Regions from separate parts of the Homo sapiens genome. Here all the other regions are reported to be linked to region 3. The links are microRNA targets in miRTarBase. Many come from high-throughput screens and were not tested one by one. Region 3 holds a microRNA gene; each other region holds the end of a gene's coding sequence.

What was found. Region 3 holds the annotated microRNA hsa-miR-143-3p (UGAGAUGAAGCACUGUAGCUC, at 2,544-2,564, shown strand). A microRNA usually pairs through its seed, bases 2 to 8, with sites in the 3' UTR of a target mRNA and lowers its output. Matches are read on the target gene's strand: a 7mer-m8 pairs with bases 2 to 8, a 7mer-A1 pairs with bases 2 to 7 and ends in A, and an 8mer does both.
Region 1: the mRNA of PPP2R5E is a reported target of hsa-miR-143-3p. Seed matches in the 3' UTR shown: 7mer-m8 at 3,811-3,817 and 7mer-A1 at 2,737-2,743.
Region 2: the mRNA of RAB33B is a reported target of hsa-miR-143-3p. Seed matches in the 3' UTR shown: 7mer-m8 at 5,043-5,049.
Region 4: the mRNA of LRRC2 is a reported target of hsa-miR-143-3p. Seed matches in the 3' UTR shown: 7mer-m8 at 2,532-2,538 and 7mer-A1 at 3,768-3,774.

Annotation. Positions count from the first base shown.
Region 1 is chr14:63,370,335-63,377,457 of GRCh38, forward strand. PPP2R5E (protein phosphatase 2 regulatory subunit B'epsilon) reads right to left here. Exons shown (of 14, transcript NM_006246.5): 14 at 1,030-5,774. The coding sequence ends at 5,675. Among named protein-coding and RNA genes, the nearest start is that of GPHB5, 55 kb to the left of the region's middle.
Region 2 is chr4:139,471,892-139,479,015 of GRCh38, reverse strand. It overlaps RAB33B (RAB33B, member RAS oncogene family), which reads right to left. Exons shown (of 2, transcript NM_031296.3): 2 at 2,407-6,330. The coding sequence ends at 5,890. Among named protein-coding and RNA genes, the nearest start is that of RAB33B, 21 kb to the right of the region's middle.
Region 3 is chr5:149,426,435-149,433,558 of GRCh38, forward strand. MIR143 (microRNA 143) reads left to right here and starts at 2,484; the gene lies at 2,484-2,589. CARMN (cardiac mesoderm enhancer-associated non-coding RNA) reads left to right here. Exons shown (of 5, transcript NR_105060.1): 4 at 2,449-2,605; 5 at 6,284-6,402. MIR145 (microRNA 145) reads left to right here and starts at 4,212; the gene lies at 4,212-4,299. RefSeq lists enhancers at 4,552-4,846, 6,863-7,124.
Region 4 is chr3:46,512,627-46,519,750 of GRCh38, reverse strand. It overlaps LRRC2 (leucine rich repeat containing 2), which reads left to right. Exons shown (of 9, transcript NM_024512.5): 9 at 688-4,366. The coding sequence ends at 737. Among named protein-coding and RNA genes, the nearest start is that of RTP3, 18 kb to the right of the region's middle. RefSeq lists a silencer at 2,458-2,752.

The DNA of each region.
Region 1 (7,123 bases), not on the chromosome of region 3:
TCTTTAGTGTACATTTACTTTGCATCCATTCTTGTAAATATTTACTTATAGACAGGAAGCAACATTATGCAAAGAATTAAATATTTTCTTAAAATCATCTCTTAAGTCTCTTGAACCCTAAAATTTTCTGTTACAAGTTTCTTATTTCTAACTTACCAAGAGGTTGATCTTCAGGTGCTACAAGTGGTTATGCTTTGAAATACAAAATTGCTGACATATACAAGGGCTTTTCCCTTCCAAACCCAGATTAATTTTAATATGAAATATTAATTGGTTAATTCCACATGGTTCCAATTTGATGTAATTTAATTAGCTAAGGGCGTAGATCACACCTAAATCAAATACTTTACAAAAAAAAAAAAAAACTATCCCATGGTAGCTTAAAGATAACTGCAAATCACTGAAAATACTTCTCATTGATTCACAGTGAGGACTATGCCCCCTCCACTTGAATCTGAGCAGGTTCTGTGACCGCCTGACCAATAGAATATGATGGAGGTGATGCCATGATAGTTTCTGGGCCCAGGCCTCAAAGAAGAGGCAGTTTCCACTTCCTGCCTCCTAGAACCCAGCTGCCATGCTGTGAGGAAGCCCAAGAAGAAAGTACTGTGAGGAAGAACTGAGACCCCTGGTTTAACTCCAAGCCAAATGTCAGCACTAACTTGTCAACCATGTAAGTGAGCCATGTTGAAAGTGAAGTTTCCTGCCCCACCTGTGACACCCTGGTTGACACTCGAGGATCAGAGACACGATGTTCTTGCCAAGTCCTTCCCAAACTATAGATTTGTGATGAGAATAAATTGTTGTTTTTCTAAGCCTCTACTTTTGGAGTAGTATGTTATACAGCAACCGATACTGGACCATTTCCCAATATTACATACTCATAATCATAAACTGACTTCTCAAAATGAAAGCCTGAACATACCAACCCCACTGCCTCAAAGCTAAGTTAATCAAATCTAATATTTGTATGGTTCAAAAGGCCACGGAGTTCAGAAACAAACAAACAAAAACAGCCAGGCACCTGAAAACTCTTCACTGCTTCTTTATTATGATGCACCCACAGTACAGAACCTCTCACACATCTGTGAAAGGGGAAGGTTACATTTCTTTTTGGGGAGCACCTTCATTTTTGTTTCTGTTACCACTTTGAAGAAAGCAAATCATTTCCAAAGAAAAACATTTTAAATTCCAAGTGTTTAAGACTCAGCTTGTATTTTGTGGTGTTTGAAAAGGAAGTAGCATGTTTTAGCCAGAGGTGGAAGATTGTTTTGTGGCATTTTAAGTTTGATGTGGATCAGAAGTCTTCACTGTCTGGTTGAACCAGTCTATAATTTTCATATGCAACTTTTCATATCAAAAATGTTTCATTTTTACCTCTACTCACAAAGAGATGCTGTTTAAAAAAACACACACACAGCTAAATTTAAAACCGATCATGAACCACAGCATTACTAACAGGGAAAATGAACTTTTGCTGCCCTCTCCTGCTAAAACAATGAAATACTAAAATACCAAAAGATTTATGAAGCTAAAGCGAAGTCCTCAAACCAAAAGCAACAGACATGTCATTCTCATTATACTTCAATCAAAAATCAGACAACAACCAGAAAATGCATTGGTAATATTTATATTTGAAAATTCCCCATTGATACATGAGGTTTGGATTACAACTTATTTACAATAAGTGATTTCAAAAAAAGTAAAGAAAGAGGAAGGGAAGAGGGAAGGAGGAAAAGAGAAGCTGAGAGAGAAAAAAAAAAGAGAAAGGTGGGGGAAGGAGGGAGGGAAGGAAGAAAAGGAAACCTATATTCATAGACATCATAATATGGGATGTTTATTTCCAAGAGAGATACTACTGCTGCTATCGTGCACAAGAAGCAGCACAAATTAACATTCCGCTAGATCACAATTTGCTCAACTTTCTCTCAAGATGCACAATCCTTCTTTTAGGTTTTCAAAATTAAATATAGAGGAATATAAAATGCAATGCCAATATACCTACTACAAAAATCTTTGTGGCTCATTCCTTAACTCCACTCAGAGAAGCAGCTGAGCCAGAATACAAAAATAAAAATATTGATGTGCAAATAAAACATCAGTGATCATGTCTGGTGCCACCTTTTTGTTACAGGTGACTGTCACTTTATGATAACATTGGTAATAGCATCAAAAGAGAATCTCTTCATTTCCTGGGCCAGGTCAGTGCATCCAATTAAAAGGAAAAAAGGAAAACAAGGAAAAAAAACCACCCCAAACCCCAAAAAACTCTAAACACTTAAAAATGCCAATAACATCCATACATCCCTTTCCCATCCCACCCTCATCCCCACAAAAAAATAAAAAAGCTTTTAAAGCTCTAAATATACTTTTTTTGTTTCTTTCCATAGTGTGATTGAGCCTAGGGCTATACATTTAAGTATAGCAGGTGCAATTACAAGCAAGTCCTGGCTCTGCACCCTGGACTATCCCACGCATAGGAGGTACAAAATAAATTAAACCCTTTCATTTAGGCAAACAAGCCCAAGATGAAGGAGCATAACCCTGCTTGTGAGTATCCAGTGGCATCGAGGGTATTATTTATTTCTTTTTTTTTCTTTTCTTTTATAAAAAACAGTCAAATGTTAGGGAGAGCAAAATATAATAAAATTTAAAAGGACAAAAACTCAACACTGAAGGAAAACAACTGGGGATACTTCACAATGAGAAACAGGAATGCATGCTTGATTCAAAGTATGAGATGGGTGAATTCACTCACATAGTTGTTCTAGGCCCACAGCCTAAGGCCTCAGCGTCATTCTAAACCACAGGGTTGTGTGTATTTTTCTCTTCCAAAGACACTCTTAATCCTATCCCTGAAACCAATATGGTAAGGATAAGGTTGGAGTGATCATCACTCACTAACTACAATATTTGCTATTTAAAAAATATATTTATATATAGTTCTGGAAATTATGAAGCAAACAAAATATAACACAAAGATGCATTTGTCACAATTAACTCAAGTTGCAGCAACAGCAGAATTGTGGGAAGGGACAGAGAGAGAGGGCTGCTGCAAATGCAGCAAGTACGTCCTGAAATATGTCACATAGTGCAACAGTCAGATTACCTCAGTTACTCTGCGTCACCGCACACAACATGACTAATGTCACATTGTCACTTTCCATTAAAAAAGAAAAAGACGGTGTTTCTTCTCAGAAGTTGCCCTACGAATTTTAGACATATAGCTTTAATTGATTCTATAAATATGTCTAAAATGTGGCTTTATTCTTCTCAGTTTGGAATGATCAACATACAAAATTGACATCAAGGAGGAGAGCTGTAAGTGTTCACCTTTACTCTTGAAGACAGGGTAAGGTACAAAAAAGGATCCTGGCCTTTCTCATTTCAAATGACTGCATTTCATTCCAATGAGCAGAGATTCTTCATAAACCTGTGATTTTAATGTCTTCTACCTAAAAAGATGAATTAATGGCAAACAAAAGTTTACACTATATAAACTAAATATAATGCAGAGTTGAAACTAAAGGGCTAAAATGACAAGGGCTAAAAAGGAGAAGATTTGTTACAAATTTATTTTTTATCACATTGTTCCAGCATTTTTAAAGTCAGTTGTTTCGTCTTTGGCAGCCTCTGCCAACTTTACAGTGAATCCCCATCAATGTTCTTTAAAAAAAAAAAAAAAAAAACTATTAATTCCATTAAACCATGTTGCGTCTGGTGTTGCATATGACTTTTTTTTTTTACTGCTTTTTTTTTTCTTTTTGGAATTAACAATGCCAGTTTTGTTTGTTTTTTTACAAAGTTACCGAGATGACAATATCCATAATTAGCTGACTCTTACGTACACACTGTGACCTGATCATCCTGAAAAACTTTATGGGGGAGAAAGGTCAGCAGCTTCTCTTTCTTTTTCTTGAAAATAATAAAACTGCGTATTCTACTTTATATTTAAATGTAAGGAAGAAAATATACAAGCCCATATTTATATTGTATTTCTATTAAGAGCAACAATAGTTCATATGTTCATGTTTGCTACTATCACAATTCAACATATGAACACAGATCAGCTCTATACCATGAATACTGCTGGAAGTGATGGTTTAGGATTACCAACTCACTGCTGCCATGACCAAAACAAGCAAATGCATCCTGGAAATAAACCTCCAAACACATATCTTTCAGTACGTAATAATGCAACTGCATTAGGTAAGTACATACTGTACACAAATTTTATCAGCAGTTTACCTACCCAAGATGTAAGATTCTTCATTTAAATACAAAGCAGAGAGCCAATAAGATATATATATATATATATATATATATATATATATAAAATACAGCCCTAGATTTTGTTTTTTTTGTTTTTTTTTCTTAAACAATTTGGTCACGATGCACCTTTGATATAAAAGCATTTTTAAACTTTATTATTAATACTCAGGACATTAGGAATTTCCAGATTTTTTTCAGTAGCATTTGTAGAACCACTTTTGGTAACAAATACAGTAGTTAGGAATATGCATCCAATTCAGAATGCATAATAATGTTTATCCTGAATCCTTTCCGGCTAAAAACAGGGCTGGCGCTGTGATGAGATATAGAACGAGAATCTACAAAAAACACTGTAACATGTTTGTTTTTTCCCAGAGGCTACATCCTCTTTTGCTGGAATACTTTATAAATACATATTAAAAAGTAAGGCAACAACTCCAAACAGTCCAAGCTGTTTGCTCAACTCTTTTCCCAATTAGATTTGCAATCCCGGTGATCAATTTCATGGTTGTATTGTTTAGTGTTTGTCTTTCTTATTTCAAATGGTCCAAAAGGATGTTTTTCTCACATTTCTAAAACATCTCTGGTATGTGTGTTCAATGATATATGCAACTAATACTGGTCAGGTACTGAAGCCTGTGATGTCCCAGTGCCTGTTTTCAAAGGATTCAAGACATTGATTTGGATTCACCATAAACTGATGCATGAATCCGATATTCCCTTCCCTACTATGTTTATCACCTCTTCTCTCTTAACTCCTAATTTTAAAACTAAAGGAGTACCAGGACTACCTGGTTACTGGAAAGATGTTCACCCCAGTAAACAAAACTTTTATCAGGGACTTTTATAATTCATGACCCCATTCCACGTGGACATTCAACTCAGGAAGATGTGCAAAAGAAAAAGATGTTAAATTACAGTCAAGTTATCCAGAGGAGGATGTTACACAAACTTATAAGGAAATGACAGTCTTTTTTTCTTCCTTTACTATAAATACATTTAACAGCTTAGCAGAAAGACAAGCTAAATTTAAGATTGTTCACATTTGAAAATTGTATCATACTCTCTGCTAGTGATAAATAAGGAACTCCCGATAATGGAATTTTAACATAGCAATTTCATCAACAGATCTTTGAAGACCGATTTTTTTTTTTAAAAGAGGGTGAGAACAATGATTATGTTTGCAAAGTTCTGAGAAGTCCATCTACTGTCCAAACTTTGGATTGAAGTCCTTATTTTGTTTTTTCCTTTACTTAGAGACAGGTATATACAGTGCTGCTGTAATAATGAAACAAAGGTGAAATCTACTGTAAAGTTGCACAATACAGAAAACTGTTGCTCCATCTTCTACTACATAAACGTGTGACTCCACAGGTTAGTAATGTTGTTGTCATTGTTTTTGTTAAGTTGGAATTATTCCATCACGTCTAAGACCTCTCTTTAACTCCAGATCCTCCAATTTTTTCCACAATTCTTCACGCTCCTTTTCTTTCTTTTTCTCACTGAGGAAGAAACAGAATACAATGTAAACAGCTGAGGTTTAATGAGATTATGCAACAATGAATATTTTACAATTTCACCTTAACACTCCTTTATACTTAGCTTAATTGAGAAAATTAACTTTAAAATTACTAAGAAACAAAAATGGGAATGACTTATATGCATCAGTTATTGTAAAATCAAGGGCATATTAGTGATTTTCACTTGCAGCTTAGTAAGAATCTTAATTTTTCTTTATCTCCAAATAGTTTCTCAAAAAGGATGCTGGAGATGACACTGATACAGAGAATATAGTAGGTCAAGAAAATATATCTGCTCCTTTATTCCTATTTTTCCCACCTCATGCATATTTAAATTCTTCAGTAGTTTAGAAGAAACTGAAAACTTGTGATTTCACTTTTAATGATCTGAAAAGAACTTGGTTGATATTATTAAGTATTAAATTTTAATGCATCAAGCCTTCAAATTGGGTTCAATATCAATTTCACTGATTTTAAATTTAGTGATTTTCAGACTTTGAGATTTCACTATTTGGTAAAACTTCCCCCAAAAATTAGATGTCCAAATTAGAATCGACAAACTTTATATTTTGCCAAGGACATTTTAAAATTACATTTTTACAAAAAAAGGATTTTTAACATCAACCAAGTAGGAAGTACATGATGCAGGAATATAAGACTATATTGTAAGTTATATAAATTCACATTTACTAAAAATAATTCACTACACTGTCTCTGGTTTTTTTCCATGTTGCAGCGAACCAATAAAAAGCAGACCCAGGCTGGGCGCAGTGGCTCACGCCTGTAATCCTAGCACTTTGGGAGGCCGAGGCGGGTGGATCATCAGTGAGACCCCGTCTCTACTAAAAATACAAAAATTAGCCGGGCATGGTGGCGTATGCCTAGAGTCCCAGCTACTTGGGAGGCTGAGTCAGGAGAATCGCTTGAACCCGGGGGGCGGAGATTGTGGTGGACGGAGATTGCAGCGAGCCGAGATCACACCACTGCACTCCAGTCTGGGGGACAGAGCAAGACTCCGTCTCCAAAAAAAAATAAAAAAAAAAAAATGCTGATCCAGATTAACATTCATAAATCCAGGAATTCAGATAATTCCTGAAAATGGGGGCTCCACCATCTCAGGCATGGGGATGTAATCCATGCACTACCCCACTTAGCAAGGATTAAAACTTCAGCCACAGTACAATTTCTACGCAGGGAAATCCACATGGGTTGAGTGAAATTTGTATGTAATTCCAATGCCTCATTTTTTTTAAAACATTATAACCAATGTTTTTTAAAAGTTATATTAATATCTAGAGCAATAGAGATTAATCTTCATCCCCTCCAACTCC
Region 2 (7,124 bases), not on the chromosome of region 3:
AGGAATCAGGCATGCTTTTTATTACTAGTGCAACCTCTGAGGAGGGCGATTAGAAACCCAAATTGCAAACACAGATACCTTTCATCTAGCAATGTCACTTCTAGGAATTTTCCCTTTGTATATACTCACACATTTGAGAAATTACTTATGTAAAATGATATCCATTTTGGTAATGCTTGTAATAGCAAGACTGGAAACAACCTAAATGTTCATCAGTAGAGGGCTATCTAAATAATGGCCAACTAAAGGAATTCCATGAGACCTAAAAGAGAATGATGAAGCTTACATATTTTAACATGAATTCATCTCCAGGGTATACTGTTATGTGAAGAAACAGCAAATTCAGGGGCCAGGTGTGGTGGCTCGCACCTGTAATCCCAGCGTGGGAACTGGGGTGGGAGGCCAAGGTGAATGGATCACTTGAGCCCAGGAGTTCCAGAACAGCCTGGGTAAGATGGCAAAACCGTGGCTCTACAAAAAGTACAAAAAATTAGCTGGGTGTTGTGGCGTGCACCTGTAGTCCCAGCTACTTGGTAGGCTGAGGTAGGAAGATTGCTTTAGCACAGGAGGTGGAGGTTGCAGTGAGCTGAGATCACACCACTGCACTCCAGCCTAGGTTGCAGATTGAGACCCTGTCTCAAAACAAAAACAGAAACAAAAAAAATTCATGGTACTGGTTCCTTGTGATAAGAACTGAGGAGCTGGGAGAAAGAGTGGGAAGGAGAATTCACCATTTACTCTTTTGTGAATGGTTCAAGTATTGAACCATGTGAATGTATTTCCTATACAAAAATTTAACTTAAAAAAAGAAGTCCCATTACTGATCACATTTTATTGAAACATGGAACTCTCCATTTGCAGCAAGAAAAGATTAATAATGAGGAGCTGAGAAGTAATAAAATGGCTCCATATACTCTGTTAAGTTTATGGAATGAATAACCAAAACAAAAGTTGAATTGTTTTTGTAATTTAAAGAATGTTCTGGGACTCAAAAATATACAGAATCTTCTATAATTAAACTACTCAGAACAAGAAAAATACCAAAAAGCATTAGGATATACAACTTAAAAATTTTAAATGACAAGTTTCATCTGACTCAAAACACTCTGAAAAACATATATGTAAATAAATCACAAGAATCAAACTTTTGATAAAGGCAAATTAAAGCAATGTAATAATCTAAAAAATAAAACCAAAGCCTGATATTTTAAAAAAACATTTGGCCACATACATGAGTGCAACTAGCAGCTCTAGAAAAGAATACTGACTAGTTCATGCAATGAAATTCCTGACCTTGGTCTCTAACTCCTGGGGGTTTTAGTTCTGAAATATCTCAAATCTGTATTTTTCTGCCAGTGCTCCAGTTAAAGCTGTTTCTTCTAGGCTATTTCAGTAAGCTGACTGACCATGACTTCATCCCCTCACCCTTCCCATTGCCGCTGGAATTTATGGCATAAATCTAACGGTCTCACTACCTTGCAAAATGCTTTCATTAGTTACCCATTGCCTAAATAGTAAAGTTCAAATGTTTTTGTGTGGCTATCTTCTTTTTTTGCTCCCCTTCCCCCAAAATACCTTCTCCCCTAAATGTGGAAATTGCTTATTTTATCTTTTTTGGCCATTGGTCTTGGGTGGACACCTGGATCTTGCCAGGCCAATTAACAGTCTATGCTGGAAATTTCAACTTGAGACTGAGAGTTCATTTCTCTTTGAATGACTGCAGCATCCAAAAGTTCAGAAGTACTCAGTGGCCATGTTTTCTGCTAATTAAACTTAAAAAATGGAAAAATCTAGTTATAAAAGAAAGAGAAAATGCAGATGTGCAGAGAAGCTGGACCCAGAGTTAGGAAACTGTGTGCTCAATCCCAGCTCTTCTTTTAGTCCAGTCACATCCTTGTCTTCAAGTCCAGTGAGACAAGTCAGACTCCTTACATTAAAATCCCCCTTATAGGCTGGTTCAGACTGAGTTTCAGATACTGCACCCAAGCCAGTCCTAATCCCACTGCTTATGGCAACTTGGCAGTTTAACCAAAATCTACCTTGCTAGCTTCATTTCCGTGTTCTGACCACATCTCCATTCTATCACATACTCACACTGACCTAGCAGTCATTCCCCCCAAATTCAACTCCACTCTTGAGCCCTGCAGTGCATTCACCTGGGATGACTTTCTTCCCTCTCCTTTACATGGAGAATGCCTCACATTTACCCTGAGATGCTGCATAAATGCTTCCACTCATTGTGAAGCTTTTTGATTATCTACTGCTCCCATATCCAAGTCAAAAGACCACTCCATATTCTGTGCTCATTGTCCTTTGTATATGCTTCTTTGATTACACTGATCACAGTATATTGTAGAATTCCTATTTGTTCATATACTATTTTGTAAGTTCTTCAAGGACAGTGTCTATGTAGCTCCACTAACACAAATAGAGAACACATGACCCATACTTGATAAATGTTTGATAAATCAGGTTATTCCAACAAACCAAGTGCATTCGCCCTTGCCACACAGGCTGTAGCAAACGTGCTCCCAAAATACATGACGAACTTCTTAATATCTGATTAAGAAAGCAGTCCTTCATGAATAATGTCAATTTTGTGTTTGAACACAAGGGTAACTTATACGTAAAATAAACTGACCAGGGGAAGCAGAATCAACATCAGAGGCCCCCACATCCCTAATCCTATGGTGTCTAAATCAGTAACTGCAATCTTATACCTGAGACGTAGTTCGTTCTCTTTTCTCATACTTTCTATAGTTATTCATTCTGTTAAATGCTTTTACGTCTAAATACACATCAACTCCTCTTGCACCATTTGCTTTTTGCACTGAACTATTCTAAAACAAGCTGGATTACTAAAACACACAAATACAAAAGCTGTGTTATCAGCTAATTTTAATACTTTGTTGAGTTTTTTTCCTGAAGTGTTCTTTGACCTCAAATGTATACAAGAAAATAATTGTCCAATGGGTTGGGGGCTTTTTGTTGTTTTCAAAAGTGTATCATATATATAATATTATCTGGAAACCAGGAGGAAAAAAAGATTGTTTTATTTTATACTCTACCCAGTAACCAAACAAAGAAAATAAAACACAATTTCTTTGTGGCTAAGCTGGTTTATTGAACTTCATGGGGGAAATGTAACAGTGACACTATTCCACAACAAAATTACTTAGATTTCATGAGGAAACATGTATTTGCAATATACTTTCAATAATGCATTGTTATTAATAGCGAACTACATTAGATTCTGGGGTAGTTTCCTTTGGTGTTCTCAAATTAAGACTTTTCCAAAACATGTCTGATATTTTAATTATTTATTTTCAATTAAAGGTCATAGTTAAAATAAATTCTACAGATTTTTTAAATGTGTGATTTGTTCTTTAAAAATTAGTAATTAGTTGTTAGATAGCTATCATTTTGGAAGTGATTTTGCAACAGTGAAATGTTTTATAAATATTTTAAGATATTGAAAGCTTTAACCCCATTCAACTGGTATGTTTTTTAAAAATAAAAACATATATATAAAAAATTAAAACAAATTGTTACAAATGAGATACAAATATTTTAAAACTAATAAATATTACAGTTAAAAAATAAGTCCTTTCACAGAACTGTAAAGGATATTACTTAATTCCTTACAAAAAGAAATAAAGTTACTCTTTTTAAAACCATAATAATAGTAATAAAAAACCATAAATGTGCTTGGAAAGTCTATAAACTTTCTTCCCCCACTTTAGAAAATATTTTGAAAAGCGATAAACAGATTCCCTTCTTTAAAAAAATGTTGTTACACCCATCATAGTTACTACAGCTGTCATTGTTTTATTACAAAAATAGTTATAAATCAAGGTTAATTTCGATACAAGTAAAACAATTTTTAAATTCCAGCATGATTAAGAAAACATGATCTCCCTAAATGCAAATAAAGCCAATTTGAGCTCTAATACTTAAAATGGAATAATCACTTCCTATAATTATTATTTTCAGTTAGTTCATTTAATAGAATTACTTTGTCTTTATAGTTAAATTATCCAGGTAGGACCACCATGATGATTAAACAAAAATCTTAAACTAGATTAGATTACATTTTTAATTGATTTCCCATATTCTGAAAATACTGTAGTACAATAATCATTTGGCTTAATTTCCTCCAAAATTATTAAGGACAGCAATCTATCAAAATTAGTGAATGTGAACACTTCAGTTAAAGTCATGGCTTACATTCCATTTACGTAAATAGTTTAATATGTAAGCTTGCTATATTTTATGTGCAAAGACTTAAATTCAAAATAAAAGTATTTAGGTTAAAAAACTTCTTGAAATATTCTTTCCATCACTGAAGTTTAGACATTTTTCAATATCTAATTTATTTTTCATACTGAGGAGGGATAACTTGTGACCATAAAATTTAGACATCTTAAAAATTGATATGACACAATACTATTACAGAAATACATGTAGACTAATAGCAATTAGAGTTGTGCCTTCACACCTACAATCCAAATGGAAGTTGATTTGTTAACTTGGCATTTAGTCATTAAATTTATTGGAGTTGAAGGAAGAGCAAGAGATACCATATGGGATACACTGCTTGAAATTAGTAAAGGCTAAGAATAGGTCTCCTGTGTTAGCTAGAAGCTATGTTTACCTATTTTCCCCCAAGTTACAACTCTTCATGTGCTTTCAGTTAGTTTTTCACTGTTTAAATATACCAAAATAAAATATAAAGCACCTTATGTCACTTTATTTGCCTTAAAATCTGACTTATTTTTGCATATTTTAATAGGATTTAGTAAGAAAGCAACTCGGCTGGGTGCAGTGACTCACACCTGTAATCCCAGCACTTTGGGAAGCTGAGGCGGGTGGATCATGAGGTCAAGAGATCGAGACCATCCTGGCCAACATGGTGAAACCCCATCTATACTAAAAATACAAAAATCAGCTGGGTGTGGTAGTGCACGCCTGTAATCCCAGCTACTCGGGAGGCTGAGGCAGGAGAATCACTTGAACCTGGGAGGCGGAGGTTGCAGTGAGCCGAGATGACGCCACTGCACTCCAGCCTGGAGACAGAGCGAGACTCCATCTCAAAAAAAAAAAAAAAAAAAAAGAAAGAAAGAAACTCAAATAACTCTTTTAAAATAATAATGATTTTTGTAGATCTGATAAGTATTAATTAGAAAATCAAACATCTAGAACTCTTGGAAAAGTCATTCTTTATGGACTGGGAACCAGAAAACATTCTATGCCTTCTTATCCCACTGGAACTAAAGTCTTGGCTCTAAAACATACCAATAATAACAAAACTAAATATGTTAATAAAACAAAGAAAGGCCAGATGCAGTGGTGAGTACCTACAGTCCCAGTACTGGGGAGGCTGAGGTGGGAGGATTGCTTGAGCCCAGGAGCTCAAGGCCAGCCTGGACAACATAGCAAGACCCCGTCTCTATGAAAAAACAAAAAAAGTACTCTGGGGAGAGGCAAATACCAGTTTTTATCCTATTAAGAACACTTCCCATTCAAAGGACATACTATTAGGTGTGTCCTAAACCTTTAACATTTTTTTCCAATCCTAGGACAAAAGATTGAATGGTTACTGATTCCATCATGTTCTCATTTGAAGCTTCCTTCATTGGGCTCTAGATGGAGAGATGTTCAGATTCATCCTATCTTTGCTTCATTTTCAATCTCACCTGAAAACCAACTTTTCCTGTGTTGTCACAGTGACAAACTTAAGTAGATACAAAATACAAAAGCGTGACAATGACAAACAGCAAAGTGTCAAGATGACCCATTATAGTTGAGATTAAATCTTATGACTTAATACTGTCATACTTCAAAAGTATTTCTTTAGTCAAAATTAGATAATATAATAAAGACTGTTATTTAGCACCAGCACGTCATTGCAGGCTTTGGTTCAGGCTTCAGGATAATTCCATTATCAGGGGGCTGACTAAGCATTAATGGTTTGTGGCTCTTAAGCTTATGAGCCAAGGTCATAAATATAGCTTCCACATGGTCATTATCATTGGGGTTTTTAGCAGACGTTTCAAACAAAGGCATACTGTGTGTGTCAGCAAATTTTTGTGCCAAGTCTGTGGGTACCTGTATGGCACTTCTCAAGTCACATTTATTTCCAACAAGAATCCGTGGTATATCATTGGCTAGCAAATGTTGTTTGCATTCTTCTATCCAAGATGGTAGGCTATGAAAACTAGCCATGTTGGTCATATCATACACGAAGACAACAGCATGTACATTTCTGTAGTAGTGCTGAACCATGCTCTTTCTGAATCGTTCTTGTCCTGCTGTGTCCCATAGCTGGATCTAAAAATGGGAAGAAAAAGAGGAAAACTGAAAATCCCATTCCAATTATACATATCAAGAAATGTAATCATCTTGCATTGTCTTTATTATCTCTTCACTTAAAATATTTTGATTTCTCCCTTCCATAATGTCTTTTCAGTGTTACCTATGGGATCCAGACTTCATGATACCAGTTACCTCACAATTAAATTATAATACAAGTGTCGGAACTAATATTTCAATACAGGATTTTCTAAATTTCAGTAAATCCAATTTGTTTAAATAAAATTTACCTCAAAACTTTATTTTAAAATGTTAAGAGAAAAATATATCAGGTGTTAACATGTTAAGCATTTAATTCCTGTAAATTTGGTTACTATACACCCCTCTTTACCTTTCACTAGTCTAATTTAAAATATTAAACCTAGGAAAGATGTTGTTATGAGATCCAGCCTCCAAACAAACATATACATGTATGTGTATGTCTATGAAATCCAGGACCCCTTGAAAACTTAAGAAGGCTAGAAAAAAATCATGAATAAAAATGCTCAACATAGAATTAAAATGCTTAAAACTATAGATGTCAAAACTTACTACAAAGCTACAGTAATCAAGACTGTGTGAAACTGGCCTAAGATCAGATACAGAAATCAATGGAACAGAACTGTGGATCCAGAAGTGAACCCATATATCTATGGTCAACTGATTTTTAACAAGATTACCAAGAAAATTCAACAGCAGGAAAGATTAGTCATTTCAATAAATAGTGCTGGACAACATGCAAAAAATGAGGCTGGATCCCTATCTCACACCAT
Region 3 (7,124 bases):
GATAATTCCACAGAAGAGGAAAGCAGTTATCTGGCTGGGAATACCTTAGACAGAGGCTGTCCTCTACACAGGCTGTCAGAACTGACCTACTGACCTGCCTGCTGGCATGATAGACCAGAGGGAAACACTCTTTCCACTCTTCCCAGACTGAGTGTAAGAGACAGACTTTTTTTTTTTTTTTTGAGACGGAGTCTCACTCTGTCACCCAGGCTGGAGTGCAATGGCAAGATCTCGGCTCACTGCAACCTCCACCTCCCCGGGTTCAAACCATTCTCCTGCCTCAGCCTCCCAGGTAGCTGGGATTACAGGCTCCCGCCACCACGCCTGGCTAATTTTTGTATTTTTAGTAGAGACAGGGTTTCACCATGTTGGCCGGGCTGGTCTCGAACTCCCAACCTCAGGTGATCCGCCTACCTTGGCCTCCCAAAGGGTTGGGATTACAGGTGTAAGCCACTGCTCCCAGCCTTTTTTTTTTTTTTTATTAGAGACAAGGGCTCCCCATGTTGCCCAGGCTGATCTTGAACTCTAGGCTCAAGCGATCCTCCTGCCTGAGCCTCCCAAAGTGCTAGGATTACAGGCATGAGCACTGCTCCCAGCTCTGTTTTTGTTTTTTTAAGGAGGTATATTTTTTCTGTTCTCTCTCAGCCCTGAAGAAAGGCTACCCATCCCCTTCAGACATTCCTGAAAATATATGTCATCCAACATCAAGGCCACCACAGTGACCACTAAGCAATGCAAGAAGGTCCTCTGGGGTGCCCTGAGATCTTGGCAGGGCAGGAAGAGTGAGAAGGGGCTTTGCCTGCTCACCTGAAAGTTCCCACCCAAGCCGGGCCCAGAAAACAAAATGAATTATCTACATGGTCATCCAATCAGCCACCAAATGGCATTACCTAGGTCCATCATCATGTACCAAGCCACAGGTCAGACCCAGGGCCCCCCAAATTAACAAGACACAGGCACTGTCCTCAGGAAGTGGAGATCTAGCCAGGTCAGACCCACACACAAATAACACTGATACTAGAGATAATGAGATTGGGAATTATGATTCAGCCATTCAACCTGGGCTTATGTGGCATCTACACCACCTGGCCCTGATTTCAGTAGTGAGCACAGTTGACAGGGTCCCTTCCCTTCACAGGTGAGCCATGTAGTCCACAAGTGGAGGTGGTCGTAAGTGAAAACCACATTACCAGCATGGTAAAGGGTTAGAAAGAGGGCACCGGGTGGGCGAGAACATGAAGCAGGGGGTGCTGATGGCTAAAGAAGTAAAGGAGGGGCTGGGCACTGTGGTTCATGCCTATAATCCCAGCACTTTGGGAGACCAAGGCGGGTGGATCACCTGAGGTCAGGAGTTCTAGACCAGCCTGGGCAACGTGGTGAAACCCTGTCTCTACTAAAAATACAAAAATTAGCCAGGCATGGTGGTGCACGCCTGTAGTCCCAGCTACTTGGGAGGCTGGGGCATGAGAATTGCTTTAACCCGGAAGGTGGAGTTTGCAGTGAGCCGAGATCGTGTCACTGCACTCCAGCCTGGGCGACAGAGGGAGACTCTGTCTCAAAAAAAAAAAAAAGTCAAGGAGGGTTTCCCAGAGTGGCCACTTGATTAGAGACCTAGCACAGGAGGAAGAGATGGGCAGGGAGAGTGACGGGGAGCAGCACAGTCCCTGGGAGCCCGAAGTGGGTGGGCACAGGGCTCCCTAGGAGAATGGAAGGACATCTATGAGCTGTAGCCCAAGAGGAAGAGGTCACTGGGGCTAGATGCGGCAGACCCTCGCAGGCTTTGGGAAGGGCTTCAGAATTCAGCCTGAGGGCAATGGGGAGCCCTTTTGGGATATTAAACTTGAGTAAGATATGAGCATATTTGCATCTTGAAAAATCATTATGGGAAGATGGCTGGGAAGAGAGGAGGAGTGGCAGAAGAAAGATAGGTTGGAGACAATTGATTGCTCGATGATATAAAATGTTAAGTACCATGAATGATGCTGTTAGGCTGGAATGCGCCAAGCATAAAGGTGGGGCATGGCATCAAAAGGTAGGTCAACATATTAAATAATTCCATGTATTGAAATATCCAGAAAATATATAGACAGATCTATAGAGATAGAAACTGGTCTGCCCAGGACTAGGGGTTGTCTAAGGATAAGGAGCTTCTTTTTTGGATGGTGAAATAACCTAAAATATATTGTGCCATTGTTTGCACAACTTTGTGAATATATTAAAAACCTGTTAATTGTACTCACTAAATGTCCTCCTTCTAAATTAAGCTGTTCTTGACAAGAAAAGGAAAGAAACAAAGAAAAGAAGAGAAAAAAGGTCAAGGTTTGGTCCTGGGTGCTCAAATGGCAGGCCACAGACAGGAAACACAGTTGTGAGGAATTACAACAGCCTCCCGGCCAGAGCTGGAGAGGTGGAGCCCAGGTCCCCTCTAACACCCCTTCTCCTGGCCAGGTTGGAGTCCCGCCACAGGCCACCAGAGCGGAGCAGCGCAGCGCCCTGTCTCCCAGCCTGAGGTGCAGTGCTGCATCTCTGGTCAGTTGGGAGTCTGAGATGAAGCACTGTAGCTCAGGAAGAGAGAAGTTGTTCTGCAGCCATCAGCCTGGAAGTGGTAAGTGCTGGGGGGTTGTGGGGGGCCATAACAGGAAGGACAGAGTGTTTCCAGACTCCATACTATCAGCCACTTGTGATGCTGGGGAAGTTCCTCTACACAAGTTCCCCTGGTGCCACGATCTGCTTCACGAGTCTGGGCATGTCCTGACTCCTCTGTGTACCCCAGTGTGTCCATCTTAGCATGAGGCGTTAGCATTTCCCCAGCACCCTGCCTCTGCTTTCTCTTTCTGAGCCCATGGCAGACACAGCTAATCAGTAAAGGCATATATTCTTTTTTTTTTGAGACACAGTCTCACTCCATCACCCAGGCTGGAGTGCAGTGGCATAATCTCAGCTCACTGCAACCTCCTCCTCCCAGGGTCAAGCAATTCTCGTGCCTCAGCCTCCCAAGTAGCTGAGATTACAGGTGTGCGCCACCACACCTGGCTAATTTTTGTATTTTTAGTAGAGATGGGGTTTCACTATGTTGGCCAGGCTGGTCTCAAACTCCTGACTTCAGGTGATCTGCCCGCCTCGGCCTCCCAAAGTGCTGGGATTACAGGCATGAGCCTCCACGCCCCGCCAGGCATCCATTCTTGAAGTGCTCAGATGCAGCTTCAGAATCCTCAACAATGAGCCCTGGAAAGCCACTAGTACTGATTCACAGCTGAAACTCATTCATCATTTGTGGATCAAACAATTCCTAAAAACCCTTTCAGCCCTGAAGATAAAAATTCTGGCCTTTGAGTCAGGGTCTTCACTCTGTACTTCTAACCTTGGCTCCGGGGTATTGCCGAAACCAGTCCAGGCACGTCACAAATGTCTGACTTCTCCCAGAGGCTTCAGAAGCACAATGAGCAGCAGAGGAGAGCCATGGAGCCAAGCACAGTCTCATTTAACCTCCCCAAAAGCTTGGGAAGTGGGTGGTGTTATAGCCCCATTTTACAGATGAGAAAAACTGAGGCTTATTTAAGCAGCTCACCTAAAGTCACATATTGATTGTGCTGAGCTGAGATTGTACCCTAATCTGCCTTCAAATCCATGTTTTTACCCATTGCATGTGATTATGGAACCTGGGACCGAGGAGCAGGAGGAGAACATTCTAAATTCTGCTCCCATCTTGTCTTTACATCTCAGGTCACTTTTAGCAAAGACAGACCCGGACACTTGCCATTAATACTACAGGCTTCCTTCCTCCTACCCCCTTCCCCCAATCTTATTCATCTCACCTCTCCAGTAGGTCGTGGACTCATGCATTTTATAATTAAAGAAGGCCAAGGCTCAGGGGTTAAGTGACTTACTGGAGGTTATCAGAGAGGAAGTTGCCAAACCCAGGCTAGGAACTGAATGGTTGGTTTAAATCCACCCCTCTGGCAGGAGACTGGGGAATACACATGAGCCGTGCAGACAGCAGAGGGCAGTCCTGGGGGTGGGGGCGCCAGAGGGTTTCCGGTACTTTTCAGGGCAATTGAAGTTCCGGTCACTACTCCCCCCCAGAGCAATAAGCCACATCCGGCGACGTGTGGCACCCCACCCTGGCTGCTACAGATGGGGCTGGATGCAGAAGAGAACTCCAGCTGGTCCTTAGGGACACGGCGGCCTTGGCGCTGAAGGCCACTCGCTCCCACCTTGTCCTCACGGTCCAGTTTTCCCAGGAATCCCTTAGATGCTAAGATGGGGATTCCTGGAAATACTGTTCTTGAGGTCATGGTTTCACAGCTGGATTTGCCTCCTTCCCACCCCACAGTTGCCCCCCAATGGGGCCTCGGCTGGCTCACAGGATGAGGGTTCAAGAAGAAGGCTGTCCCTGGAGGTAAGAGGGCTTATGAACCATGTTCCAAACCTTTGCGTTGCTTTTCTTTCCATCGTGTCTATTTCATAACATCCCTGTGAGGCTGGATGTGGGAACTTCAGCACTGCCGTACTCTTGGGAAATTTGTCCAAGGCCACCCGGCTGAGCAGCGGTTGAACCAGGACACCATCAGGCATGCGTTTCTTGTCTCCACCACACCCTCAACCCACTTCCCAACGCGCCTTGCGACAGGGGCTGCGGTATTGCATCCACATGACTGATAAACTAGTAAACACACATGAATTCATTTTAAAAGTGTATTCAATCAGTTAGGTAAACTAAAAACCTTAAGTCTTCGTTCGATTTGGAATGCAGCCAGAGAACAAATGGAAAATTTTTCAAGGTAGAGAAGATGAAAACTCAGAACGCCCTCTTGTGGCATCTCTACCCACCCTAGGAACACTATGGCTCTTCCCCTACACATGGTGATTGCTAACCTTGCTACAAGACGTTGGACACACACACACACACACACACACACACACACACACTGAGGTTCCTTTTGCCCCCTCACTTTTGAGCCAGTGACTACTGAAACCCTCTCCATTGTTGCACCACCAGCAATGCCCCCATCACTTCCTCTCATTTACTTCCACAGGCTGGTTCATCCTCAAAGCCCTCCTTACGTAGATCTGTGGGATCAGTGAGGCTCAGAGAGGTAAAGTGGCCAGCCCAAGGTCGCCCAGACAGCAAAAGGCAGGGCCAGCGCTGATTTCAAGTCCAATGGCCTATGGCAATTTCTTAGCCAAAAGCAAAATCTACAAAAATAAAAAGTCAGGCACAGTGGTGAGTGCCTACAGTCCCAGCTACTGAGGAGGCCGACGGGGGAGGACCACTTGAGCTTGGGAGTTCCTGGCTGCAGAGAGCTATGATTGTGCCTGTGAATAGCCAATGCACTCCAGCCTGAGCAAGATAGGGAGACCCTGTCTCTAAAAAATACCTAAATAATTTTAAAAGTCAGCCTCTCTGACTGCCTATAGAGAATGCTAACTAACTGAATGACAGAAGACCTAATGTAATCCAGGTGCAAAATCAGAACTTTCCGGCCGGGCGCGGTGGCTCACACCTGTAATCCCAACACTTTGGGAGGCCCAGGCGGGTGGATCACGAGGTCAGGAGTTCAAGACCGGCCTGCCCAACATGGCAAAACCCCGTCTCTACTAAAAATACAAAAAATTAGCTGGGCATGGTGGTGGCCACCTATAATCTCAGCTACTCAGGAGGCTGAGGCAGGAGAATTGCTTGGACCCGGGAGGCAGAGGTTGCAGTGAGCTGAGATCGCGCCACTGCACTCCAGCGTGGGGGACAAAAGCGAAACTCTGTCTCAAAAAAAAAAAAATTAGAACTTTCCCCGTACTCTTGCTAGGGCTTTTCATGGAGATGTAGAAATGGTAGTAAGTGCCAAGGCCCCAGAACCCTCATGTTTGGGTCCGACTCCCACATTGCCAGAGACTAGGCAGCTCACACAGGTGTCCCAAGCTGTCTTTCTCACAGGCCGCATTGAAGGCATTTATGAAATGAGACCCCCTCTTCCTCATCCGTAGTGACAGGGCTGGCCTGACCGTGGAGAAATCAGATTTGATCATGATAGCTTCCACTCCGTGACTGGTCACGATCTGCCAGGCGCTGTGCTAAACACTTTCATAGGCCTTGTCCCCCTCCATCCTGATAACACCCCAGTGAAGCAGGCCCTGCTCTTCACTCCACTCCACAAAGCCAAGGCTGAGAGAGGTTAACAGACTTACCTAAGGTCACACAGCTAAGAAGTCGTGAAGCTGGGATCGAATCAAGTCTGTGTTTATGGGTTTAACTATCATGTTGTGGCCCCAACCCCATTTGACCTAGCCTGGCTGGTGGGCCTTCTTGCAGTAGCTTCCCCTGGAGAAGAGGAAAAGCAAACCTTCATTGAGACCCAAGCGGTCTCTCCTGTGCTCTGTGACAATAATAAAGTTCCAGCCCTTGGCTCCTGTCCTGTTTCTTTCTGGGAATTTGGGGAAGGGGGGAGGTGGCGAAGGCAGGGAAAGAACCTGACAGGCCCAGCTGAACACCCCCAAGTGGCTCCACACAGCCACTTTGGGAGGCCACATAGATAGCAGTCAGGACCCACATCCTGGCAGTTGGAGGCCCCAGGAAGCAGCCATGTCTGGGGATGCTTCCCTGGTATGGAGGGTTAGGGGATGGAGAGTGTCCCTTGAAGCTCAGTGAGGGCTTCTTGGGGCACTTGGGATCTAGCCATGTGGCAACCCCTCTCTGTCAGTCACAATGGTGTGACTGACCAGGTCAAATAAGAAAGAGTGTGAAATGTGAAGCCAGTTCACATCTCACACAGGTGTTTGGATTCACAGTGGCCTCTGGACATTAGCCAGGCCCTGCAGTAACACTGGACATTAGCTGTGCCATAGGCAGCGTGGCCAGCACATGAGGACACTTTTCACATGGTTATCTGCCTTGGCGTGATCCTCCAAACTGCCATATTTTGAGGGGAAAAAAAAACACCACCTGAAAAACCACTGTGTTAGTCCGTTTTCACACTGCTATAAAGAATACCACCTGAGACTGGGTAATTTATAAAGAAAGGAAGTTTAATTGACTCACAGTTCTGCATGGCTGGGGAGGCCTCAGGAAACTTGCAGTCATGGCAGAAGAGGAAGGGAAAGCAAGGCACGTCTTACATGGCAGCAGCGGG
Region 4 (7,124 bases), not on the chromosome of region 3:
GAAGGATAAGGATGTGAAGCCCTCACTGGTCCTCAAGCTTTAGTGAACATAGGAATGAGAGTTTTTACTCATCAGGCCTGGGGCAGGGCCTGAGAAAGTACACTTCTGACCAGCTCGCTGGTGATGTTGATGCCTTGTGTCTGAGAAGTACACTTTGAGAGCCATTGGTATAGACCATCCTTTGACAAAACTTTGGCTGTGAAGGGAGAGAGAAGAGGGGTCAGCAACTAGTGGGAAGAGCCAGGCTGAGAGAAGGTTTACTTTCAAAGATGGTGTATGGTTTAGGAACAGCCCAAACTTCTCTTATAAACGGTACCCTCTGCCACCTACTAGCCACAGTCCCAAGTCCGTGACCATCTATTTCTATTTTGTCAACTATTAATACTGTAGGGTCATATAGCTTCCAAGATCTTGATGTAGCTGTGAGTTGGCTGGAAAGATGGCAAAAGAATGAAAGTTAACGATTCTTAGATCTAAACATTTCTAAAGTTTGACTGCACATTTGTGATGACTTACTTAATGGTGACAAATGCATTATTTATCACCTATACAGTATCTCTATACTTAAAACATGAAGTGACAATAATGGGTGTATTGACATACATTCATTATGTATGTCATAGCACGTAGCTAGATTTCATAATAAAATGGTGAATGATTGAGCATACTTTTTTCTTTCTGTTACAGAATCTGTTCCCAGCTATACCACCAAAGTGTCTTTTAGCCTTCAACTTTGATATCCATCAGAAGACTGCAAATCTCACTATTCTCTGGAGCTATATATAAATCTTTGTTATGATCATGTCATATAGGAAGAATGGCTTGTGCTTAAGGACAAAGTCTAGAAACCACTATCATAGTTGCTAAAAAAAATGGTTTTCAAATGTCAAATACATGAGTATCTCCCTCCATGGACTGGAGAATTGAAAAATTGGTTTGTATATTGATATTTCCAGGTTCATTTGCATATACTTTTTTCCAAATAATGCACATTTAATATGTTTTAAAATGTCTTATTTTTAAGAATTATAACTAAAAGACCAAATACTGAAGTTAAGTGCATTGTTTTCAGGAATCAAAAGATAAAGGGGCCGGGTGTGGTGGCTCACACCTGTAATCCCAGCACTTTGGGAGGCCGAAGTGGGTGGATCACCTGAGGTCCGGAGTTCGAGGCTGGTTTGGCCAGCATGGCGAAACCCCATCTCTACTAAAAATACAAAAAATTAGCTGGGCATGGTGGCAGTTGCCTGTAATCCTAGCTACTCAGGAGGCTGAGGCAGGAGAATCGCTTGAACCTGGGAGGTGGAGTTGCAGTGAGCCGAGATCATGCGACTGCACTCCAGCCTGGGTGACAGAGCCAGACTCTGTCTCAAAAAAAAAAAAAAAGAAAAGAAAAAGATAAAGGGATTGTGAAAAGAGCATTTATATTGGACTAATCAGATGAGAGTGTTTTGTTATTTTGAAAGAGTTTCTTTTACTGAGAATAATCTTCCTTGAGTTTATATAAACTGCTATTTCCATATGTTTTAAGTTATATTTTGGCAAGTGTAGACTCCCAGGAGAGACTTGTAGGTACAATCTAGGCCTTGAAGAAACAAAGGCTGGAATATCTGCCCATGCTTTGGGCATGAGATGCTCAGATGGTGCGTGGGTAGATCTAGTTGAGGAAGTGTGGGCCTGGCTGTTCATGGGAAGTCTTCAGTGGCCTTCATGGATGGCCATCCAGTCCTGAGTGGTCACCCTGGGGGTCCTGGGACACACCTCAGTAAAGAGCAAAGGCAACGCCCTCAGGGTCCCTTCCTCCAAGATGGCCATGTAGGGTAATGGAGATGACCAGTCCACACTGATAAGGAGTTCCTAGCAAGGCTTCCTTGTGGGTACCACAGGACAACTCTGCCCATAGCAAAGATGCTTCAGTCCAGAGGGAGCCCATGGGCTGTTTGAATTTGGGAGAGGTGGGATTCATTACAAGACTTTGGGCTCTTATGTCACATCACATGATTTGGAGAAATTAGACACAATCTCTTATTTTTATACCACTGTCTTGGGCTAAAATAAACAGGTTGTGGCTGATGGTGTTGAAGATAAATAAGCTTAAACAAATAACTTTGGCCGGGCACGGTGGCTCACACCTATAATCCCAGCACTATGGGAGGCTGAGGCAAGCAGGTTGTTTGAGCCCAGGAATTTGAGAACAGGATTTTGAGAACAGCTTGGACATCATGACGAAACCCCATCTCCACAAAAAAATTCAAAAAATTAGCCAGGTGTGGTGGCATGTGCCTGTGGTCCCAGCTACTCAGGAGGCTGAGGTGGGAAAATCACTTGAGCCCAGGAGGTCGAGGCTGCAGTGTGCTGTGATTGTGACACTGCCCTCCAGCCTGGGTGACAGAGTGAGACCCTGTCTCAAAAGCAAAACAAACAGCAATAACAATATTATTATTGTTATAACTAAAAAAAAAAAAACAAAAACAAGCAGCTTTTGTGACTAAGAAGGAAAATATGCATATAGTGGCATATTTTTATATGAATCATCTCCTCTGTGGTCTTGCCCAGTACCATCCAGTGGAGCTTTCTGCAGTGACGGAAATGTTCTGTATTTGCGTTGTCCAACGTGGTAAACCAGACACATGTGATTCTTGAGCACTTGAACAATGACTGATGTGATTGAAGAACCCATCTTTCAATTCAATTAAATTTAAATAGCCACATTTAACTCCAGCCTTGGGTTTGACCTGATGGAAAATTCCCATGAGAGAGTGCTCCAAACCGTTCCAAGGTGGGGCCAGTTGCGATTCTAAAGGAAGAAGCACTAAATGGCAGGGTGATCAGTCCAAAGCATTTATGAGGGGAGCTTACATACAGCATGGGCTGCAGCGTCCTTGTGATGGGCAGTGAGACAAGGGATGTTCTACCTGGGCATGTCCCCAGCGAGGGGGTTGGGGGATGGAGTTCACATGAAGATGTAAGGAATTTGGGTGGGGGCTGGGCTGGCTTCTACATGTTTAGCAACACGGCTGATCTTTCAGTGTTTCCAGCAACAACCTAAGCACCGTTATCAGTGCCTAGGAATGTTCAAGGCCCAGGCTGGGGTTCAGACCTGCAGAGGAAAACATCAGCTGGCTGGGTCAAGGCACCATGTGTTACTTGGTCAGGACAGAGACAAAAATGAGGAAAACTAGGGGACCCCACACACATGTGGCTACCATACTCCTGAACAGGTCTAGCTAGTTATTTGTTTTTTTGGAAGTTAATCTGGGGTAGAAATGTATGGTGATTTTTATTTTCTCTGTCTGAAGAACCAGCCATTTTTAAAAAGGTTATTATTGACATCCCAATATTTTGTCTTGGTGGGCTTACTCATAAGTCCAAACATTTTATTCTCAACAGGTGTAAAACAGGCAGAGCATTCTAAAACCACATGGTAGTGCTTTGGTGGAGGACTGCTTCCACTTAGAAACAAACTCTGAGAAGTAGGCTAAGAGAAGACAAGAGGGCCGGGCGCGGTGACTCACGCCTATAATCCCAGCACTTTGGGAGGCCGAGATGGGTGAATCATGAGGTCAGGAGTTCGAGACCAGCCTAAACAACATAGTGAAACCCTGTCTCTATTAAAAATGCAAAAAATTAGCCGGGCGTGGTGGGCACCCGTAATCCCAGCTACTCAGGAGGCTGAGGCAGGAGAATTGCTTGAACCCAGGAAGCAGAGGTTGCAGTAAGCTGAGATCCCACCATTGCACTCCAGCCTGGGCAACAGAGTGAGACTCCATCTCAAAAAAAAAAAAAAAAAAAAAAAAAGAGAGAGAGATGAAAAGAGTAGGAAAATGAGAAATCACCTTCGTTGAATCTTAAATAGTTACATTTTTTTCTTTTTAACACTAAAAATACAATTCAAATTTATTAGCTCTACTACTTGAATGATTTTGGAATTTTATGTCATGCTAAGGTATGTGTTACATATGGCCAAGTGGAAAATATATCTGAAGAGGGGCTTTCATACAAATAGACTGTTCATAATTTATGTAAATTTTATTTTAATAAAATCAGTTTTTTGTTTAAAAACCTTGTTTCACTGTCACATATGAAAAAAATACTGCATTGATATATAATTATTTCATGTTACATAATAACCCAAAACAAATAATTACTTGAATATGTTTGTAGAGATACTATTTAATTTATTCATATAAATGTGCAGAAAGATTCCAAAGGAGAATATATATCTTGTGAAAATATGGAGATTTGAAAATTTGACATGATGCAAATAGACTGATACATAATTTGGAAAGGTTATTTACATGGCAGAATACATGTATGAATATTAAAGTAATATGAATGAAAGAATAAAATATTCTTAGAAGAAAAATGTTCTGGTTCTAAAAGCTTTTTATTAAACCTATTTTTTGTATGTTGGAAGTGTAGGGGGGAAAAGATTTTTTTTGCTCGTCTGTTGCTAGGTTCATGGCTGAGACTCCTGTAACAAAAGATGGATTAAGAAGTGAAAATAGCATACAAATATATTTAATATAAGTTTTATGCAATATGGGAGCCTTCAAAAATGAAGGCCCAAAGAAACAGGTAAATTTGTGTTTTTTTTTTTTTTGAGACAGAGTCTCGCTCTGTTACCCAGGCTGGAGTGTGGTGGTATAATCTTGGCTCACTGTAACCTCCACCTCTCGGGCTGAAGCGATTCTTCCACCTCAGCCTCCTGAGTAACTGGGATTACAGGTGTGCGCCACCACGCCCAGCTAATTTTTGTATTTTTAGTAGAGATGGGGTTTCACCATGTTGGCCAGGCTGGTCTTGAACTCCTGACCTCAAGTGATCCTCCCGCTTTGGCCTCCCAAATTGCTGGGATTACAGGCATGAGCCACTGTGCCTGGACAACTAGTGCATTTTTTAATACTAGGTTTGATAATGAAGTGCATAGTTGTGGAAAAATATGATTGGAGGACAACACGGTGTGATCTAATAGCAATACGCTGGGGGAAACTTAACAAGGCCTGTCAGTTCAATTCTTCTTGGTGTCCCTGTGTCTTTGAGGATAAGGATGTTCCTATAATTCAGATACAGGCAGGATACCTCTGGAAGGGGGGGTCTTATGACCGACTGCAGGGAGGAAGGTCAGATAATTCTGTTATGGCCTACTTCAGGGGTGAAGGCTGAGAGGAAAGTCAGAGATACCTTCCTGCTTCTGCAGTTTTCTCAAATGCCAAGGCGCCATATTTTGGGATAGAATGTAATGAAGCCCATCAGAAGTGAAGGGGAAAAGGCACTTAGGTGAAATCCTTAAGTAGTGTATTGTAATTAATAGCAAGACTCACATCTGGTTTCTTGACTGTAGCTTTAATTTTATTTCCACTAGAATCTCTTTTAAATTTATTGATGGTTCTAGCCACCCTCCCCACCCACATGTTTCCTTGTTTGGGGTGTAATGGATCATGGAGCTAGTAAGCTATAAAGTAGTGAATTAAATCCTTACTACCGTATTCCTCCCAATTTGAATTGTGGAAGAATACAGCAGTCTTTTTTGTACAGAAAGAGACAAAAGGTCATTTTAATTTTAATAACTGGATATGGTAGGAGATGGTTCCTTCTTACTTTCTCACTTTTCTGTAGAAAAACCCAGCAAGCTTAGAGATCTCTAAGCTCCTCTGGCTTAGAGATGCCTCCTTCTGAAAGCTTGGCTGGTGTTTATCTGGGTCGTTAGAGCAGACGTTCACAAAATGGTCAGTTTTGTAAACTTTAAAAGGGAAAGGTTGAGGAAGTGGATATCCAATCCTATTGCTTACTGAGGTATGTATTCTAATTGGCTCAGAATGGATTATGTTTTCACCCAAAGACCATTCTGTATTTGAGCCAAAGTTTAGTGCTTTATAATTGTACTGAGGGTACTAATCCTTTTTAAAACGAGGATTTGGTTTTGATACATAGATGACTTATGTTTCTTACTCCAGCTTTGACCTTTAATATTGGCACCTGTTTCTGGTTTCTCCTCTATAGGGCAGCTCCACTTGGGAATCCCATTGACATCTAAAAGAAGTGTATTACAGGTGTGTTTATTTTCTTCCTCCATTTTCCAAAGTTACATGACCAATATTTTATGGGTCTTACAAATGTGTAATTCTATCTAATTTTCTTTTTGAAAAATTACCTATTTTAAAAAATCCACAGATCTTACTCATTTCTCTTTTCTTTAAAATATTTACTTGATTCTAATTTTTCCTGATTAATAAGGAGGACATTTTTTTCTAGTATCTCATCTTCCAGCTTCTCCCACACTACTTGTCAGTGGCAAGATCCGTCATCAAAGTCAGTTTAGACCACATAATAGCATTTCTTAGGATTTTGAAGGGCTTTCCAATTCTTTCTTGAGATTAAAGTTCTTGGCTGTAGTCTTCAGTGAGCTCACAAATAATCTAACTTCCATTTCTTTTATTGTTCTAATTATCCAAGTTTAAAAAATTATTGTCTAGTTTGTTTTCCTTATTTAATCGGTGCTATGATGTATAAATATTGTTTGTGATATTGCCTTGAAAGTGTGAATGTGCTTCATAAAATAGCATTTTCTAGAAATGCAAATCAAAATGACTACAAGATATCACTTCATACCCATACGTATGGCTATGTTAAAGGAAAACAAAAGCAGAAAATAACAAGTGTTTGTGAGGATGTAGAATAATTGAAACCCTTGTGCACCGTTGGTGGGGTTGTAAAATGGTGTTATCACTGTGGAAAACCATGATAGTTCCTCAAAAAAATTAAAAATAGACCTACCATATGATCCAGAAATCTCATTTCTGGGTATATACCCAAAAGGATTGAAAGAAGGGTCTCACTTAAAGTAAAATAAAAAAAAAAAAAAAAAAAAGAAGGGTCTCACTTAAAGTAAAATTAAAAAAAAAAAAAAGAAGGGTCTCAACGAGGGATATTTGCACATTCATATTCATAGCAGCTCAGTTCAAAATAGCCAAGAAGAGTAAGCAACACAGATGTTTATCAATGGATCAGTGGATGAATGGATAAACAACATGTGGAGTATTATTCAGCCTTAAGAAGGAGGGAAATTCTGACACTTACTACAACATGGATGAACCTTGAGGATGTTAAGTTAAATGAAATAA